2 linked regions of the Homo sapiens genome follow. The protein of the gene in region 1 purifies or fractionates together with the protein of each later gene. This does not show direct contact. Each region holds a gene or a part of one and is shown in the gene's direction. Other genes may lie near its edges. The genes, in order: CKAP5 and TACC2.

What was found.
Region 2: the proteins of CKAP5 (region 1) and TACC2 purify together in Homo sapiens (affinity purification with mass spectrometry, with the first as the bait; 2 studies listed by BioGRID). This does not show direct contact.

The regions. Positions count from the first base shown.
Region 1 is NC_000011.10:46,835,042-46,844,766, reverse strand, and holds part of CKAP5 (cytoskeleton-associated protein 5), read left to right. Parts: intron 1-9,725. UniProt on the Homo sapiens protein: Binds to the plus end of microtubules and regulates microtubule dynamics and microtubule organization. Acts as a processive microtubule polymerase. Promotes cytoplasmic microtubule nucleation and elongation. Plays a major role in organizing spindle poles.
Region 2 is NC_000010.11:122,207,448-122,217,172, forward strand, and holds part of TACC2 (transforming acidic coiled-coil-containing protein 2), read left to right. Parts: intron 1-2,426; exon of another isoform or gene 2,427-2,522; intron 2,523-2,949; coding exon 2,950-4,261; intron 4,262-5,894; coding exon of another isoform or gene 5,895-5,930; intron 5,931-7,943; coding exon 7,944-8,004; intron 8,005-9,179; coding exon 9,180-9,381; coding exon of another isoform or gene 9,382-9,474; intron 9,475-9,725. UniProt on the Homo sapiens protein: Plays a role in the microtubule-dependent coupling of the nucleus and the centrosome. Involved in the processes that regulate centrosome-mediated interkinetic nuclear migration (INM) of neural progenitors.

The DNA.
Region 1 (9,725 bases):
GGGAGGCCGAGGCAAGAGAATCATTTGAACCCGGGAGACAGAGGTTGCAGTGAGCCAAGATCCCGCCATTGCACTCTAGCCTGGGTGACAGAGCGACCCTCTGTCTCAAAAAAAAGAAAAAAAATTTTTTAAAAGGCTGTTCACTGAGGCAATGGCAAGCAAAGGTATTCCGTAACAATTAACATGCCTTTTACTTTATTCTCCATTACTTTAAAGTCTTGATCAGTTTTGAATTATGTTTGAATTATGAACAGTGGGTGTGGTAATTCCATCGCAGTCTTCTACTACTGACAGTTCAGTTTTAGCAGCACCTGTTTTTTTGGTGTTTTTTGTTTGTTTGTTTGTTTGTTTTTTACCTTCACGGTTTATTGTAAAGGATGCTACAAAGCATACAGATGAAGAGAGGCGTAGGGCTTGTAGGTATGGGAGAAGGGTGTGGAGCTCTTATGCTCTCATATGAAGTGTGTTTGAATATACCAACTCTCCTGTAAACTTTTATCTTAATTCCATCAACACTCACTTTCTTTTCCTTTTTTTTTTTTTTTAAGACAGAGTCTTGCTCTTTCGCCCAGGCTAGAGTGCAGTGGTGCGATCTCAGCTGACTGCAACCTCTGCCTCCTGGGTTCAAGCGATTCTGCCACCTCAGCCTCCCAAGTAGCTGGGACTTCTTGTGTGCACCACAATGCCCAGCTAATTTTTTGTATTTTTAGTAGAGACAGGGTTTCACTATGTTGGCCAGGCTGGTCTCGAACTCCTGACCTCAAATGATCCACCCGCCTCAGCTTCCCAAAGTGTTGGGATTACAGGTGTGAGCCACCACACCTGGCTAACCCTCACTTTTCTAACTGTAGCTTCTATTAGGACTTTATCAACAGGTTTTGTTTTTGCAATACTAGGTAGGGGAAGTGTTCCCCAGCCAGACATAATATCCATTCCTAATAAAACACATTTACATATAGGAGACACAGCTTCCAACTTTCATAGTTCTGTCAACACTTACATCTTTGTGTTCTCTCAATTTTTTTTTTTTTTTTTTTTCAATCAGATCTCACTCTTTCGCCCTGGCTGGAGTGCAGTGCTGCTATTATGGGTCACTGCAGCCTCCACCTCCAGGGCTCAGGTGATCCTCCCATCTCAGCCTTCCGGTAGCTGGGACTACAGACGTGCATCACCATGCCTGGCAAATTTTTTTAGTTTTTGTAGCGATGGGGTTTTGCCTTGTTGCCCAGGCTGGTCTCGAACTCCTGGGCTCAAGGGATCCTTTTGTCTCGGCCTCCCAAAATGCTGGGATTACAGGCGTGAACCACTACGCCTGGCCTTCTCTTAATCTAACTGTAGCCCTGTTCGGGGCTTCACCAATGGCTCTTGGTACTACTGTACCTGGGGCTTCCATATGAAGGAGTCCCAGGAATTTCTTTTTGCCACTCCCTGACCATTTTACCTACTTATATACAGAAGGCTTGGGGTCCCCAGCAGGTGGTTGAGCCAAGAGACCCTTGCCCATTTGCCAGTCTTTATCTTGACTCATCTACCTATTGTTTCCACAATTTCAGATCAGATTTCTCATTGTAATCTGCCTCCTGACTTACAATTTCTCCAAACTGGGGTAAATATAGCAAACTTGTTTGGAACCCCTTAATGGTGGGAGACCAGCAGGGTCTCCCTTTGGCTCCCAGGCTAGTCTTGAACTCCTGGGCTCAAGTGATCATCCTGTCTTGGCCTCCCAAAGTGCTGGGATTATAGGCATGAGCCACCACACCCTGCTACCTTACTTCTTTTTTTTTTTTTTTTTTTTTTTTTGAGACGGAGTCTTGCTCTGTCACCCAGGCTGGAGTGCGGTGGCGCGATCTCGGCTCACTGCAAGCTCCGCCTCCCAGGTTCACGCCATTCTCCTGCCTCAGCCTCCCAAGTAGCTGGGACTACAGGCGCCCGCTACCAAGCCCGGCTAATTTTCTGTATTTTCAGTAGAGATGGGGTTTCACCTTGTTAGCCAGGATGGTCTCGATCTCCTGACCTCGTGATCCGCCCGCCTCGGCCTCCCAAAGTGCTGGGATTACAGGCGTGAGCCACCGCGCCCGGCCTACCTTACTTCTTAATAACCATTTAAAAATTTCCACCTTCCGGGTTGAATCCATTTGCCCTCTGTCTCACCATTCTCTTAACCTAATGGTTTTATTAGCATCTGTAAGACCCACGAGAGGAAACTGAGACAGCACATTTGATAAGGCTTCTCGAACTGTCTTTTGATTTTGCAACAGTAAGGTTATCCACATTAAGGGGTCACCCTTAACCACAGCATTTACCATGACTGGGTAGTGGGCATATTCAGAGGGTAAATGTCCTAGTCATCATAAAGCCAGTTTCACATGGCTTGCATATGAAGTATATCAGTGGCTCTATCTGGATCTGGGGTGTTCCACTTGGCATTTATGGAATCAGACTGTCCCCTTCAGGAAGCTTATGATACTAATGTACAAAGTGAAACAATTCCTTCACATTGTACCCCCTGGTTTCAATAGTTCTTTGATTTTTGCAGACCACCTTCTTTGTTACCAGAGGTCTTAGAAGCACTTTCTGTTGTCCCGGCATACATTTTTCCCTTGAGGGACAGCTTTGAGGTTAGTGGCCTAAGCTCTCACATTCACTGAAAGCTGAGCTTGGTCTAGCGGGAAGGTCCAACCCACCACTTTCTTTTAATTTCATTTTAGCTGTTACAGATAACAATAACCAAGGGATTTAACATTTCGCTTTTTTTTTTTTTTTTTTTTTGAACCAAAGTCTTACTCTTTCTCCAGGGCTGGAGTGCAATGGCACGATCTCGGCTCACTGCAACCTCTGCCTCCCAGGCTCAAGTGATTCTCCTGCCTCAGCCTCCTGAGTAGCTGGGATTACAGGCGTGAGCCACAGCACCCGCCTAAATTTTTTGTATTTTTAGTAGAGATGGAGTTTCACTGTTAGCCAGATGGTCTCAATCTCCTAACCTCGTGATCCTCCTGCCTTGGCCTCCCAAAGTGCTGGGATTACAGGCGTGAGCCACCGTGCCGAGCCAGCATATCACTTTTTTAATACTAGTTTGCATTTCCTTGTGCATCCTGTGAACCAACTCCCAGGCAGTTGGATCCATCTCTGGATTCCATGGATAACTTTTACCTTTAGTAATTGATGACAGCACAGCTTCAGCTCTTTACCATGGGTGACCACTTGGCCACCTAAGAATCAAAGTTCTTTATCCCTATCCTTTTATCCTTTTTCTTCCCAAACCATATGTGTCTGTGAGCCAAGTCATTCTAGCAAATCCCAATTCTGACGCCAATTCTGAGAATATAGAATAAGAAACTTTAATAAGTTTATCTTATACTCTCACAATACAGAAAACTTCTGTGACCTCAGATGTGTGAGATTTTTTTCCCCACACACCAAGCAAGTAGTTCTTCAGCAGTGGACACTAGCTGTGTGTCCTCTAATTCAGTTCAATTCTGACACCTTTTTTTTTTTTTTTGAGACAGAATTGCTCTGTTGCCCAGGCTGGAGTGCGGTGGCGCAGTCTTGGCTGACTGCAACCTCTGTCTCCCGGGTTCAAGAGATTCTCCTTCCTCAGCCTCCCGAGTAGCTGGGATTACAAGAACCCACCACAACACCCATCTAATTTTTTGTATTTTTAGTAGAGACGGGGTTTCTCCATTTTGGCCAGGCTGGTCTTGAACTCCTGGCCTCAAGTGATCCGCCCGCCTCAGCCTCCCAAAGTGCTGGGATTACAGGCATGAGCCACCTCACCTGGCCAATTCTGACACTTTCTATCTGGAGGTAGTGTCAGATCCCACAGGTTGAGGGTTTAGTCCCAGAAGACTGCCCCCAACTCAGATGCCAATCTGAAGCCCCAGGTTTTTTTTTACCTGTGCTTCTGTAGGCTGACTATAAAAATGGGCATTCCTAATACCGCCCCCCATTCCCTGCCTTGGGTTTGATTAATTTGCTAGACCTGTTCATAGAACTCAGGAAAACACATTTTCCAGCCAGTTTATTATAAAGGATATTGCAAAGGATACAAAGAGCTATATAGGGTGAGGTATAGGGGAAGAGGCATGGAGCTTCCATGCCCTCTCTGGGCACACCACGCTCCAGGGACCACCATGTGTTCAGCTCTCAGCTTCTCCAGCAGCAAAGTTTTAATTGCAATAAATTTGAGTACCTTAATATTATGAACACTGTTCTAGGTTTTTGGTAAGCAATTAAAAATAATAAACAACTTTAACAGTGCCTTAGGATAAGTGTTAAAAATTTTGACAGGGAATGAGTATGTTAAGGTAAAGCCAGGCTCTCTTATGCTCCTTTAATGGGGTCTTATTCATTCATTGAACAGATATTGAGATTGATGCTTAATGTCTGTCACACATTGTTCTAGATTCAGGGAATACACTGGTGAACCAGAAAAAGACAAAGGCCCTGACCTAAGGGAGTTTGACAGTTTTATCTGTCAAACAATTTACTGTAGCAAATTATAGTTTCTGTAATCCCTCTGGGGTCAGCTCTGGTCCTTGAATAAAATACATGCCCAGATACTTTTACTAGCAGTAGCTAACATGTATTGAATGCCTACTGGGTCCCACATTTTGTTTAATTAATTAATTAATTAATTTTTTTGAGACAGGATCTCACTCTGTCGCCCAGGCTGGAGTGTAGTGGTGTGATCATGGCTCACTGTAGACTCAACCTCCTGGGCTCAATCTGTCCTCCCACCTCAGCCTCCCAAGTAGGTGGGCCTACAGGCACATGCTAATTTTTGTATTTTTTGTAGAGATGGGGTTTTGCCATGTTACTCAGGCTGGTCTCAAACTCCTGGGCTTAAGCAATCTGCCCTCCTTACCCTCCCAAATTGCTGGGGTTACAAGCATGAGCCAACATGTCCCGCTACATTTTATCTTTTTTTATCCTCACAATGTTTTACAGATGAGGAAACTGAGTCTTTAAAAGGCTGTGCAACATGCTCAAAATCATAGAACTAAGTGATAGAATCTGAATTCAAACCCAAGTCAGTCTGTCTCCAGGGCCTTTGCTCTTAACCTATGATTGTACTACGTGAAGTAGGGATCTGTAGGAGAATTCAGGAGCAATTTCTGGGTAGAATTCCCCCAGCCCCTTTTAAAAAAGTACTTCTATCGGAGATGTGATGAAATATGAATGACAGGCATGATAGTTTTTAGAGGAAAGATGGCATTTACCATATGGAAGATGGACAACTGTGACAGTGGTGGCGGTGGGTAGCTAAAGGGACGCATAAAAATTGAGTTCTTAATCTAATTAGGATTCTTGGTAGTCAATGTTGGAGAGTTTTAAGGTTTTTAAATGATTTTCCTATTCTTGCCTCTGGAGTTTAGAATACATTACTTAGCTCATTTCTATCAGGGCAGTTACTCTACCTACTTGATGTGTATAACTCCAACACATTACGCTTATTCTTTTCGGTCTTTGCATTCTGTTCTGGAACTTCTCACTTCACTCTACCCCTACCCCCAGCCTGTATTACTGGCACTCTCAGGCTTCAACTTAAATGTCATCTCCTTAAAGAGACACTTTTCTGAGCTCTGAATTAGAGGAGCCCTCTTGGTCACTTTTACTTCACTTTTCCTTATTTACTTCATAGCATATATTGTTATGTAATTGTTTATTGTTTGTCTATATATTGTTAGATTTTCTCATAAAAATGAAAGCAGAACATAGATTTTTTTTTTCCTTTGAGGTTACCTCAGTGACTCAACAATGCCTGCAACAAACTAGGTGGTCAAAAATATTTGTTGAACAAAATTGGCCAAAACTGGCATCATCTTCTCTGAACAAAAAAGTGATAAAAACAGTATCTGACTATTCAGTTGGCTGTGTTTCTGTGTCTTTATTTATTTTTTTTTATTTTTATATTCTAAAAATGTTGCGACAATGGTGGCTCAGCAATTTTTTTTTTTTTTTTTTTTTTTTTTTGAGATGGGGTCCCACTCTGTCTCCTAGGCTGGAGTGTGTTGGCCTGATCTCTGCTTACTGCAACCTTCACCTCCCGGGCTCAAGGGATCCTCTCACCTCAGCCTCTAGTGGCTGGGACTACAGGCGAGTGCCACCACACCCGGCTAATTTTTTTTTTTTTTTTTTTTTTTTTTTTTGAAGAGGCAAGGTATTACTATGTTGCCCAGGATGGTCTTGAACTCTTGGACTCAAGTGATCTGCCTGCCTCGGCCTCCCAAAGTGCTAAAGTGCTAGGATTACAGGCGTGAGCCACCGTGTCTGGCTGTCATTTTTTTCTTTTTGTGGAGACACAGTCTCAGTATGTTGCCTAAGCTGGTCTTGAACTCCTGGCCTCAAACAATCCTCTCGCTCCAGCATCCAAAGTGCTGGGATTACTGGTGTGAGCCACTGCACCAGGCTTGTTCCTGTGTTTTTGGGTGTAAGCAGTATCTTAACAGTCTCAATTAGTCTTAAAATTATTTTAGACTAGTTCAGAAAGTCTTTAAGAAAGCTAGAAAAATTATACATCTGAATTTTTTAAAAAAATTTTAATCTGTTTTGAGAGGTACTAGTCAAATACATTGTAAGATGTCCTTCTATTGGAATTTGTCTGATGTTTTTCTCATTAGACTGGAGTTACAGGTTTTGGGCAGGAAGACCACAGAGGTAAAGTGCCATTTTCATCACATCATATCAAGGGTACATGCTATCAACATGATTTATGACTTAATATTGACCTTGACTGTTCATATTGACCTGAAATAGTGTTTGTGAGGTTTCTACAGTGAATTTACTTTTTTTTCCCCTCCTTTTCTATACTGTATTCTTTGAAGGGAAGTCACTGTTTGCAGCCCACACTTAAGGAATGGGGAGTTCCTTGATCTTAGGGTGGAGTACCTACTTAATTTATTTGAAATTCTTGTCTCTCCTTTCCCATTTATTAGTTTAGTCAAGTATTTACTGATAATAGTGTGGACTCAAGTATATTTATTTTATATTTTAGGTTACACTCCAATATTACATTATTTTGTTGTTCAGGTTGTTCCAGCTTTGTCCTTTGGGAGCTTCCTGTATTCCTTTAACATACATGTGTGTGTGTGTGCGCGTATTTGTATTGATCTTTGAGTACTTCCTTACTATCTGGAAATGTTCCAGGCTCATCTTGTGTATTTCTTGTCCCAGTGCTAGAATCAGCCATTTCCCCAAGGTGCCCTGGTTCCCTTATTGGAGAATGCTATTAGAAACAAGACCTGGGTACTGAGTGTTCTCTTTGCTACTGGGGTGTCATTTCTTTTAGGTCCTTTCAACTGTTAGAGCAAAGAAATATATGAATGTATGCTAACCCCATGTATATAGACATATCTATAAATATTTCTCTATGTAGCCATCTGTGTCTATATTAAGTTAAACGAGTTCCATAGATCACTTTCAGTAGTATGGGCGGGGGGGAAAAACATGAGTTCCTACTGGTGTCTCCAATTCTGATCCATTATCACATAGATCATTCTAGCCTCCTCCCCTTGCTGATCTTTGAATTTCCATTCACAATAGTGAAAAACCTAATTTCCACCATCCATTTATTTAATTGTCCAGTTCCATTATATATGGATATACATACATGGATAGCAGTATCAGAATTGCTAACCCATACTCCATGAAAAAAACTTTATCAACTAGAGTACATACTTCTGTGCAGTTCCTTTTGCCCTTAATCTTTCAGACTCCACTCATTACCAAAGCTACTTAGGTCAGAACCTTTTTCCCACCCCCTTTGGTGAAGTTGTTTCACACATCTGTAATATAGATTCCCTTGTCATAGTCTTCATTCTTTTCTGCAATCTCCCAGTCTCCTAAATGACTTTTTAAAATTTGCATACATTAAAGTTCACTCTTTATGTCATAAAAGTCTCGAACTCCTGCCTTGGCCTCCCAAAAGTGCTGGGATTAACAGTACAACCCACTGTGCCCAGCTGACATAAATTTTTAATTCAGTTGGATAAATACCTAGAAGCAGGTTGCTGGATCATATGGTAAGACTAGTTATAGTTTTGTAAGAAACTGCCAAACTCTATTCCAGAGTGGCTGTACCATTTTGCATTCCTATTAGCAATGAATGAGAGTTCCTCTTGCTCCACGTTCTTAACAGCACTTAGTTCTATCTGGTTTTTGGATTTTAGCCCTTCTGGTAGGTATGTAGTGTCCCCACTTTATTATTATTATTATTTTAAAGAGATGGGGTCTCACTGTGTTGACCAGGCTGGTCTCAAACTCCTGGCCTCAAGCAATCCTCCCATCTCAGCCTCCTGAAATGCTAGGATTATAGGTTTGAGCCACTGTGCCTGACCTAGTGTTCTCACTTTTTAAAATTATTCGTTTTCACGACATTACCTTTTTTGAAAATAAATGTTAGTTTTTTAAGAGGAAACTTTTTAAAAATTAACTTTATTTTGGAATAATTATAGATTGTTCCAACAGAAAAGTTGCAAAGATGATGTGTAGGATTCCTGCATACCTCTCACCCAGTGTGCCCTGTTATTAACATCGTTTAAACAAACTCCAGATTCTGTTTGTGTTTCAACAGTTTTTCTATTCATGTGCCCATTCTGTTTCAGGATCCAATTCAGGGTAACATATTGCACTTCGTGGTCATCTCTATTAGCCTTCTCTGGTCTTTGGCAATTTCTCAGTCCTTCCTTGTTTTCATGACCATGACCATTTTGAGGAGTACTAGTCAGTTGTTTTGTAGACTGCCCTTCTCTTTGTCTTTGTCTGATATTTTTCTCATGATTAGTCAAGAATTACGTGTTTTTGGAAAGAATACCATAGAATACCATATCATATCAGGGGTTTTGTGATATCCATGTGACATCATTAGTGATATTAACCATGATCACTTGATTAAGTTAGTGTTTGCTAGGTTAAGTATTAAAGTTAGTATTTTTCCCTTTCTATAGCTATTCTTATGAAAATGAGTAGCCAGGTCTAGCCCACCCCCAAAGTGGGTGAAGGGATTAGATTCCACTTCCCGGAGTTAAGGGTATCTACATATATTCGGAATTTTGTAAGGAAGATTTGTCTCTTTTCACCCATTTATTGCTTTATTCCACTGTTTGTATCTTATGGACTAGTGTGTATGTGTGAGTGTGTATTGGCTTGTGTATATTTATTCTGTACTTTGAGATTTTATAATCTATTTTTTTCCGTCGAATAATTCCAGCTTTGACTGTTGGGAGCTCTTTTTGGTTGGCTCCTGTGTCCCTTTGACATGCCCCCATCTTTTTAATTTTTTTTTTCTTTTTGAACACTTTCTTATTTTCTGGTACTTTAATATGCTCCAGGCTCATCTTTTATTTTCTCTGCTCTAACCCTAGAATTAGACATTTCTCCAAAGATTTCTGGTTCCTTTTGCTTGGTATTTAGAAACCGAGATCTGGATACTCTGCCGTCTGCTCCTTGCTAGTGGGGTGTCAGTGTTTCTAGGCCTTCTCAGCCAAAACAGCCAGGTAATATATATATGTATTTTAAAGGATAATGGTGGATGATTATTCATTTATACTTTATTTTTATTTTTTTAGTTGATATTTTATTTTATTGACTTCTCTCAAACAGATTCTATTCACTCTTCTATGCACAATTTCAGCCTGCTTGGTTCTTTAAATCAATTGCTAAATTAGAAAGAAGGCACTGCTACAAGATAACTAGAAGTGTTAGCTTGATCACAAAGGTCGCGAAAC
Region 2 (9,725 bases), on another chromosome or scaffold:
CCCCACAAGGGTACATGGCAATGTCTAGACACAGTGTTGGTTGTCACAGCTGGGGTAAGGGTGGGGCCTACTGGCATCCATTGTGTGGAGGCCAGGGATGCTGGTAAGCATCCTACAGGGCACAGGACAGCCCCCAGCATAAAAATCTGACTGCCCCCAAATGACCATAATGCCAAGGATAAGAAACCCTGCAGCAAGATTAGGTTTCCTGGTTCATGATGAGCTAATGAGAGCATGTCAGTTCTAAAGAGGAAAGCCATGCTAAGCAGGCAGGGAGCTCTTTCTTCTGGAGGAAGCAATGAGCAGATGGTTAAGCTCATTGTTGCGTGATAACTGCTGACATTTGAAGGGCCTCCGAAGGCTTCCTTCTGCAGGCTGCAGAGGCACGTGTAACGGCCTGAGAGGGAGAGGGTTGGTGTTTGTGGGCCTTGACGACGGGATAGGCTGAGGCTCGTGCTTCCTCCTGCCAAGGCCCATTTGAAAGCACCTGGTCCCCCTCAGCATCCCCTGGTCCTCTGTTCCCTCCGTGTATCCAGGGGCAATTACAGAGCAGGAAGAGGAGGTCACGGCTGGTGGGAGGATGGGGTACTTGAGAGTACTAGGGCCTAGAGGAAACAGGGAGTTGATTTTAGAAAGAAGCGAGGCAACACCTTTTGAAATGAGAAGGAAGGAGTGTTTGGAGAAACCGTTTGGTAGAAAGAGCTCCGTATTTAGGGCGTCTGCTCCAGGTAGGCCCTGGGTGGAGAAGAGGAGAGTGAGAGGCTTGAAACCAGGACTAGCTCATAGATGTGCTTCCAAATGATGCTTTCAATCCAAGCGTTTATTGATCCTGTAAGAAAGTGTGACCAGTCAAGGGGGAAACAAAGCCAAGGCCAGTTCCTGAACTCAAGAACCTTGAAGTTTTCTTGTGTTGTGAGCTGAGTTCTCTGCCAGGTACTCCAGGAGAAAGGTTGCTATGAGCAAAGCTTGGTAAGCACTCTGCAGAATACTCACTGCCCAGAGATTTGCAGTCGGGAGCATGAATTGCTCTGAGAAAATCGACAGGAAGAGACCAGTTCAGGGGTTAATTGTGCATTTCCCAAACCTTGTTTGTTTGTTGGGATGAGAGATAGGGCTCCCTGATTTAGCAAATGAAAATACAGGGTGCCCATTAAATCTGAATCTTAGATAAACAAAGAATCATCGAGACATGGGACATACTTATATTAAAAAACATGTTCATTTATCTGAAATTCAAATCAGCTGAACATCCTGTCCTTTGTCTGGCAACCATGCCGGTGGCAGAAGGGGACTGGGGGTACATAACACCTGTCACGAGGCACACATTGGAAACGCTGTCCCAGGTCTTACCTGTGCCAGCTCCGTTTACTCCTCATTCTGCATCTCCCAGTACTTAGGCCTGCAGACCGCTTTATCGTGTTTGCCCTCTTGTCCAATGACACACTTTTAGTTTTCTGGCATCCTTGACTGCCTGGAGCAGCTGTGACCTCAGAAATGCATGAAAGATGCCGCTGGGTGCCAGCAGAACCTAGAGTAGCCAAGCCAAAGCTGGGGCTGGCCGGATCCCCATGGGCAGTAGGGTGGTGGCACCTTTGAGCATCATTTGGCCAACATTTGCAGCATCTGCAGCATGTTTGGGAAATAGGAGCAACCTCCTTGACTGGCAGGGGCTGATGAGGTAGAAAAGCTGAGAGGAGGCAGCTGGGAGAGCAGTGAGACTAGGCAAGAGGCAGGGCCAAGGATAGGCAGGCAGGACTGAAGGAGAGGTTACAGGTGATGGCTGGAGCGGCAGGTGGCAGACAGCAAGTGCTACTACAGGTGCCGGGGGCCTCCGTGTACAGGCTCCCCTGATCTTCACAGTGGCTCTGAGGAGTCAAGAACAGGCTTGCTGGTGGCCGTGGCTAGTATGAATATTTATGGAAGCCTCCGTATGCCTTCCTGCAGGATTTCTCTGTCTTCCTGTCCCACTCTTGACCCTTGCTTTAGCCACACTGGCCTCCTCGCTGTTTCTGTAACGCACCAGGTGCTCCTGCCGCAGAGCCTTTACTCGCACTATTCCTTCTACCCAGGATGCTTCCTCCCCAGGAGTCCTCCTGTTTCATGCACTTACCTTGATTCTGGCCTTTGCTTAGATGTCTCCTCAGAAGATCTTGCCTGACTACCTTATTTTAAAAGTGAAACTCTCCTATCCCGGCTTTATTTTTCTCCTTAGCATGTATCACCCTCTGAAATTCTGTACATTGTTTGTTTGTTTTTGAGACAGAGTCTCACTCACTCTGTCACCCAGGCTAGAGTACAGTGGCGCAATCTCGGCTCTCTGCAACCTCTGGCTCCCAGGCTCAAGCGATTCTCCTGCCTCAGGCTCCGGAATAGCTGGGATTACAGGCGCTCACCACCATGCCTGGCTAATTTTTGTGTTTTTTTAGTAGAGACTGGGTTTCACCATGATGACCAGGCTGGTCTCAAACTCCTGACCTCAAGTGATCTGCCTGCCTCGGCCTCCCAAAGTGCTGGGATTACAGGTGTGAGACACCATGCCCGGCCCTGGTGGTTTATTCGCTATCTTCCCCTGAAGAATGTGACTTCCAGGAAGGGAAAGGTTTTGTCTATTTCTGTTCCTTGTTGAATCTCTAGTACCTAGAACCATGTCTGGTCCTGATTAGGCACTTGGTGAATGTTTTTGAATGAATACTCTGAGCTGTTCTTTAATCGGTCCTCATGATCCTCATTGTACAGATGAGGGAACTCTGGGCGAACCTGGCCTGGGTCTTGAGCTAATTACGGGTAGGTCAGGTTCTGTACCCAAGTAGTACACACAGTGATGGGCGGGGTGGCCTGGGGCCGTGGTTTGTCAACCCCTACGCTGGAGGGTGATGTTTTGGTACAAGAGGAGAGGTGCCCCAATGCGTCCTGTGTCTGTAATTGATGGCGTTGTCTGTGTTTCCCCAGGATGTGGTTCTGAGACAGTCCCTGTCCCTGATGGCCCACGGAGCGACTCGGTGGAAGGAAGTCCCTTCCGTCCCCCGTCACACTCCTTCTCTGCCGTCTTCGATGAAGACAAGCCGATAGCCAGCAGTGGGACTTACAACTTGGACTTTGACAACATTGAGCTTGTGGATACCTTTCAGACCTTGGAGCCTCGTGCCTCAGACGCTAAGAATCAGGAGGGCAAAGTGAACACACGGAGGAAGTCCACGGATTCCGTCCCCATCTCTAAGTCTACACTGTCCCGGTCGCTCAGCCTGCAAGCCAGTGACTTTGATGGTGCTTCTTCCTCAGGCAATCCCGAGGCCGTGGCCCTTGCCCCAGATGCATATAGCACGGGTTCCAGCAGTGCTTCTAGTACCCTTAAGCGAACTAAAAAACCGAGGCCGCCTTCCTTAAAAAAGAAACAGACCACCAAGAAACCCACAGAGACCCCCCCAGTGAAGGAGACGCAACAGGAGCCAGATGAAGAGAGCCTTGTCCCCAGTGGGGAGAATCTAGCATCTGAGACGAAAACGGAATCTGCCAAGACGGAAGGTCCTAGCCCAGCCTTATTGGAGGAGACGCCCCTTGAGCCCGCTGTGGGGCCCAAAGCTGCCTGCCCTCTGGACTCAGAGAGTGCAGAAGGGGTTGTCCCCCCGGCTTCTGGAGGTGGCAGAGTGCAGAACTCACCCCCTGTCGGGAGGAAAACGCTGCCTCTTACCACGGCCCCGGAGGCAGGGGAGGTAACCCCATCGGATAGCGGGGGGCAAGAGGACTCTCCAGCCAAAGGGCTCTCCGTAAGGCTGGAGTTTGACTATTCTGAGGACAAGAGTAGTTGGGACAACCAGCAGGAAAACCCCCCTCCTACCAAAAAGATAGGCAAAAAGCCAGTTGCCAAAATGCCCCTGAGGAGGCCAAAGATGAAAAAGACACCCGAGAAACTTGACAACACTCCTGCCTCACCTCCCAGATCCCCTGCTGAACCCAATGACATCCCCATTGCTAAAGGTACTTACACCTTTGATATTGACAAGTGGGATGACCCCAATTTTAACCCTTTTTCTTCCACCTCAAAAATGCAGGAGTCTCCCAAACTGCCCCAACAATCATACAACTTTGACCCAGACACCTGTGATGAGTCCGTTGACCCCTTTAAGACATCCTCTAAGACCCCCAGCTCACCTTCTAAATCCCCAGCCTCCTTTGAGATCCCAGCCAGTGCTATGGAAGCCAATGGAGTGGACGGGGATGGGCTAAACAAGCCCGCCAAGAAGAAGAAGACGCCCCTAAAGACGTAAGTTCAGGGGTGGAGGTGGTAAGGATCAGAGGCGGGGGTGCGCATTGGCTGTGACCCTTGGTCATGTGCCTGGATAACCTTCGACTGCCCTAACCTTGCCCCTGGGTGCTGTGATGATGCCACGCTTACGGCCGTTGCACCAAGCAGACAATGTACGTGTTTTCCTTCCTCTCTGCGGTCACAGTGGTGGCATTTTCCCATCCACATACCCCTTTGTGTCCTTGATCTTTTGCTTTAATAAATCAATGGGCTGGAGCTTTACTTGTAGCCAAAGACCTAATGTTCAACTCCAGAGCAATCTGGGAGATCCCATGGAAGGGGAAAGGTCCTTAGAGATCTGGTTCATCTCCCTGTTGGTGACTGATTGCTTTTTGGAGAAGCTGGGAGATACACCCTTTAAAATATTAAAATGTATAGTACTTGTTTCTGCCTATTAATGAGACATTAGCCCAACCTACAAACATAGTAGATTCCAGGAGGCTCAGGAATGAGAGATGTGGCCTGGGCCCCTCCCTGCTGCACTCCAACCAGCCCGTAAGAAACACCCTTCTTTGTCTCCTTCCTTCTCTCCAGTCATCTTTTGTAGACAAAGTCCCTGCAAGTTCTGAAGAGATAAATGGAACCTGAAAGTGGGGAGCAAATCCCCACAATCCCCAGGAAGCCATTGGTCCTTGGCTCTATGGTCCCCAGACACTTGACAAGGCCAAGTACATCGTGCTTAAATATCAAACACCCATGCCTCCAGAATCCACCCCAGGACCCGGCTCTAATGTGGATGGCTGCTGGTCCTTTATTCTTTGGCCCCTGTGGTTAATATCTTGGCGATTTCCTTACTCTTACGGGAAGTATTGTCAGTAATTTAACAAGGCTGAGGAGATCAGTCTCCCAGGGGCAGCAGAACAGACCACAGCGCTGGCCCCTCTGGGTCTGCCTGGCACGAAAGAGACAGAACGACATGTTTACCTCCCATTCTGGGCTCCCCCTAACATTGAATTTCTGAGAAGAACCCAGGGCCTCCTGAGAGGAGGTCTCTACAGCAGGTTACCTTAGATCAACCTGCCACTGTCTAGTGGTGGCTGGAGGCCATCCTGGCCAAAATGGGGACTTTGTTTTAGATCAGTTACTCAACTAGGTCCCTACTAGAGACTCTCTAGAATTCACGTTGGAAACTTGATTTCAAGCCTGGAATAGGAGAAGTCTGCAATGGCTAGACTGCAAGGCCGTGCTCTCTCATCTGGAATGAGAGCCAACCTTAGCCGCCACCTCTTCCTTCTCCAAGATATGTTCTGTGTCTCATAGGCGTCCCCAGTCACTTTCTTGTTTGAATATTAGAGCTAACAGGGGTCAGGGAAGTTTACCCAACTGTGTCCTCACCTCTAGTGCAGACAGGGACTTTGGCGTGGAAGACCCTGCGTGGGTCTGACAAAGCTCTTGGGGCACCACGGCTTTGTGGGATCATTAGGATCAAGAGAGGAAGCTGTTCCCCAGCAGCTCCTTCCAAAAAGCTGGGGCATTGCCCTACAGCGGTGGCCGCCATATCCTAACCCATTAATAACCAGTTGTCTGCAGATTTATCTTTTTTGTCAGTTCCTTCTGTCTGTCTCTCTTTTTCTTTGTCTTCTTGTCTTAGGATGGTTGAAGATGTGATGTCTGTGTGTTCTCTGTTGTAAGTAAATTTAATGCAATCTGCCTCTTATGCCAAATGTGCTTATTTTTCTGCCTTTTGTTTCTGCTTCCAAGCCATTTTTATTTCCCCTCTGGCTGCTACTGATGTGTTTCTGTGGTGGGCCTGCGAATGATGGGGCATGGGGCTCCCCAGTAGCAAAGATTACTTTTCTGTTTCATAGTGATTTGCATAAGAGACTGCTTGGCTGTGAAAATGTGATTATCCAGCATCTGCCTGCTTATCAGGAATGGAACTTTTTTCCTTCCCTTGCATATTGGATGTCTTCATCTGAAATCAAACATTTTTTTTAAACTCTTCATTACATTTTTTCATTTTAAACTGGGCTAGTGGGCGATTGCTTTCAACACTACTGTGGCTTCACGTTAAAATAACTGTCTGGTCTAACCACAGGCAGCGACGGCCACAGCTTATTCTTGCTAACATGTAAAGCAGAAATATTTGGGCCGTTCCAAATTGAGGCCCACAGAGTGCCCTGAAATGCAGGGTCAGTGCAGAGTGGAGCACACAGCTGTGAGAGCCATCGCCAGGCTGCCCCAGTCCTGCATCCTCAGTCACCCAGGACCTGGCTGGGTGTCGGCATGCCTTGTCTGCCATCTGTGGGTCACCCTGCCACTTGTCAGTAGAAACAGAGCTGACCATTTCTGTGCCTCTGCTGCTTTGCCTCCCATGGCCAGGAGGGATCTGTGGGCAGCTCGGGGGGGTCCAAAGACATGCAACTTTTCCCTGTCCTTAGAAGGGAAGCCGGCCAGTCCAGGTGGCCAGCAGTCCCAGGATAGGGTCGAGTCCATCAGACTCTCTTCTGCCCAAGGGATTTCTTGAGTATTTTTGAGCCACTTAGCAACTATAAAATATATGGTTATATATTTATATGCATGAATAAATATATGCTTCAAGCTGCGATTGCACTGTTTTAATGGCAAATATTATAAATGCTGTAAATAGCCATTTATTTTTTTTTCATGATTAAATGCCATTGTTGGAGTGATTTGAGAGAACACAAGGAAGGAACTTGAATGCCAAATTGCTCTGCCCACCCAGTTAACATGCAAAGCAGGGGAGGGTGGTGGGATCTAAGGAGAGGGATCACCCCCCAAAGCCTTTGCTTTGCTGGGAGTGGGACCAACCCATGGAGGGGCTGGAGACGGGGCAGGGGCCAGTCTACAGGGTGGAAAGAGCCCCCATTCTGACTGTGGAAGTGACCCCCAGACTGCTCGGTGGACTTAATGGAACTGCTCAGGCTAAAAGGCATCCCTTTCTCCTGGGATCTGCTTCCTTGACCCTTCAGGAGTCTGATTTGGTGGTTTCCTTTGCCTCTCAGCCCCGCTATTCATATGGAGGAGAAAAAGGGAGAGAAGAGCTGTGAATCTTGTCTGTTTACCATGGTTAGGAGAAGACAAAAAAAATCATCTCTCCCCTGGCCCTACCTTTAGTCAGGATTCCACCTAGAAGCCTTCAGAGCATGGGAATCCATTGAGCTCAAAGATCCTGTGATAGGGAGGATTCAGGAGGTTCTCCTTGAGGACCCCGAACTTTCTATTTCTGCGTGGCCCCCTTCAGTTGTTCATTAAGTGAGGTGTCGCCTTGCCCGTCTGTAAATTGGTGTCCTGAGCCTAGAGCCCCTCCCCTAGCCTTAGTTGGGTTCAGATACCCCTGGAAGAATCCAGATAAATTAATCTGCTCACCAGAAATTTGCTTTATAAAATACGAACATTTAGTTAAATTTAGCTTCATTTTCTGGGTCATTCTCCAAAATGGCATCTCTTTAAAGATCTCCAGCTTGATGGATCTTTCCCTTGGGGGCAAAAATAATAGCTGTTAAAAAGTGAGAGTGGGTAGCCGGCGTGGCCTCTCGCTGGTGCTGGAGTGACAGAGGTGGGAGGGTGGCCTGGGCCAGATGGCTCCGCAGAGGCAGTAGCTTCGGTCCGCTCTGTACTGCTCTGGAGTGTTCCGTCCCTCTGCTTGTTGTGTTTACGTTTTCCATTTTGTTTCCAGTGACACATTTAGGGTGAAAAAGTCGCCAAAACGGTCTCCTCTCTCTGATCCACCTTCCCAGGTACAGTGTTCCTTTGATCTTGATGGTTTTATGCCCCCCCCGGGGGAGGTTTTCTTCGCTTGTTGACAAAGCTTTGCTTTCTGCTCATCCCGGGCCTGTTTCCAAGACCCTCTTCTTGCATTCTGTGTGGAGGGTCCCTCGATGTTTGCTTCACATTGTTTTGGTCCCTTCACTTTGCGGAAGATCAGAGTGTGTCCCGAGAGTGGGAAGACGTTCAGGAAAAACATTAGTTGGGCTCTGGAGGACCCACTCTGCTCCATTCAGGCCAGTTCATCTGCTGTGAACTTCTAGGACTGTCGAGATGAGAAAGTCTCTTGAGATGAACAAATATGCAGTGAGAAGGTGAAGAAACTCAGCAAGTGTCAGGAGCACTGAATTGTGCAGCCAAAATTGGAGTGGGAAGAAAAGGGAAGCCCCTCCCCTAAAGAAGTGGGGCTTAGGTTCTGTCTTGATTAGAGTCCCTCTTACCAGTTCCTCCATCAGATAGATTCCATTTCTTCTACCCTGTTTACAGACCAAGGAAAGTTATCGTCAAGCCTGTCAGTATGTTAGGGCTAATTTCTGGGTCATAAAACAAAACAGACCTGCCACCCCTCCAAATCTGAGCCAGCAAAGCCCCAGCCTGCAGACCCTGGCCAGAGTGGGGGCAGTGGAGGGAAGCACTCAGCCCTGGGGATAGGGGCTCAGGTCCCAGCTGCAGCTCTGTCCTGACCTCTCTAGGTTCCCACCCTGCCCTACTCCACTTCCCACTCTCCAGTGGAAATGGAGATAAGATCCCCCTTTTTCTGCCTCCAGGGACTGATGAGATGCTTGTCAGGTGATTCTGGTGATATTGATGTGCAGGCCTGAAGCACTGTGTGAGCCTCGCACAGCAGTCACAGTCGTAAAACTAGCAGGAATGCTCAAGTAACTAAGACACAAAATCCTGATTTTTTTTTTTTTTAAATTCATGGTCATTCCCTGAAACAAACCATCATAAAAGGAGATTCATAGAGGGAAGAATCTGTGTGTCCATCTGTTTCCTTAATGGACCATTTGGAGCAGAGTCTGAGAAGAGCATGCAGAGGATTGTGACCGGGACCTGTCCTGGCTAATGGGTCCCCAGACCTGAGGGTGGGCACAGTTTCTGACCAAGAGTCTGATGAGACAAGAAACAGTTTCTCTTCTCTTTGCAGGACCCCACCCCAGCTGCTACACCAGAAACACCACCAGTGATCTCTGCGGTGGTCCACGCCACAGATGAGGAAAAGCTGGCGGTCACCAACCAGAAGTGGACGTGCATGACAGTGGACCTAGAGGCTGACAAACAGGACTACCCGCAGCCCTCGGACCTGTCCACCTTTGTAAACGAGACCAAATTCAGTTCACCCACTGAGGGTAAGCAACTCTGTAGCCAGCTGGACCCCCACTCTGCCTCGGAGAATCCTGCCCCTAGGGAGCCAAAGGCCAGGAGAGAAACTTCTCAGCCAGGTAACCACGTGATCATCATTGTGAGATCGTCTGCACGTCTCCCGCTGCACTTGCAGCTCAGGCTGTGTTTGAAAACAGCCTGAGACTTGAAAGCAGCTGTCCCTTGACCCAAGACTCCTGCTAAGAGCCAGCACGGTGCCCTCTAACTCCACCTCAGGACTCCATCGAGTGGGTCCTGAGCGCCCACTCGAGCTTTGCCCATGGCTTATGTCCCCTCTGTGATTTTGATAAACACAGCTCCAAGGGAGTGT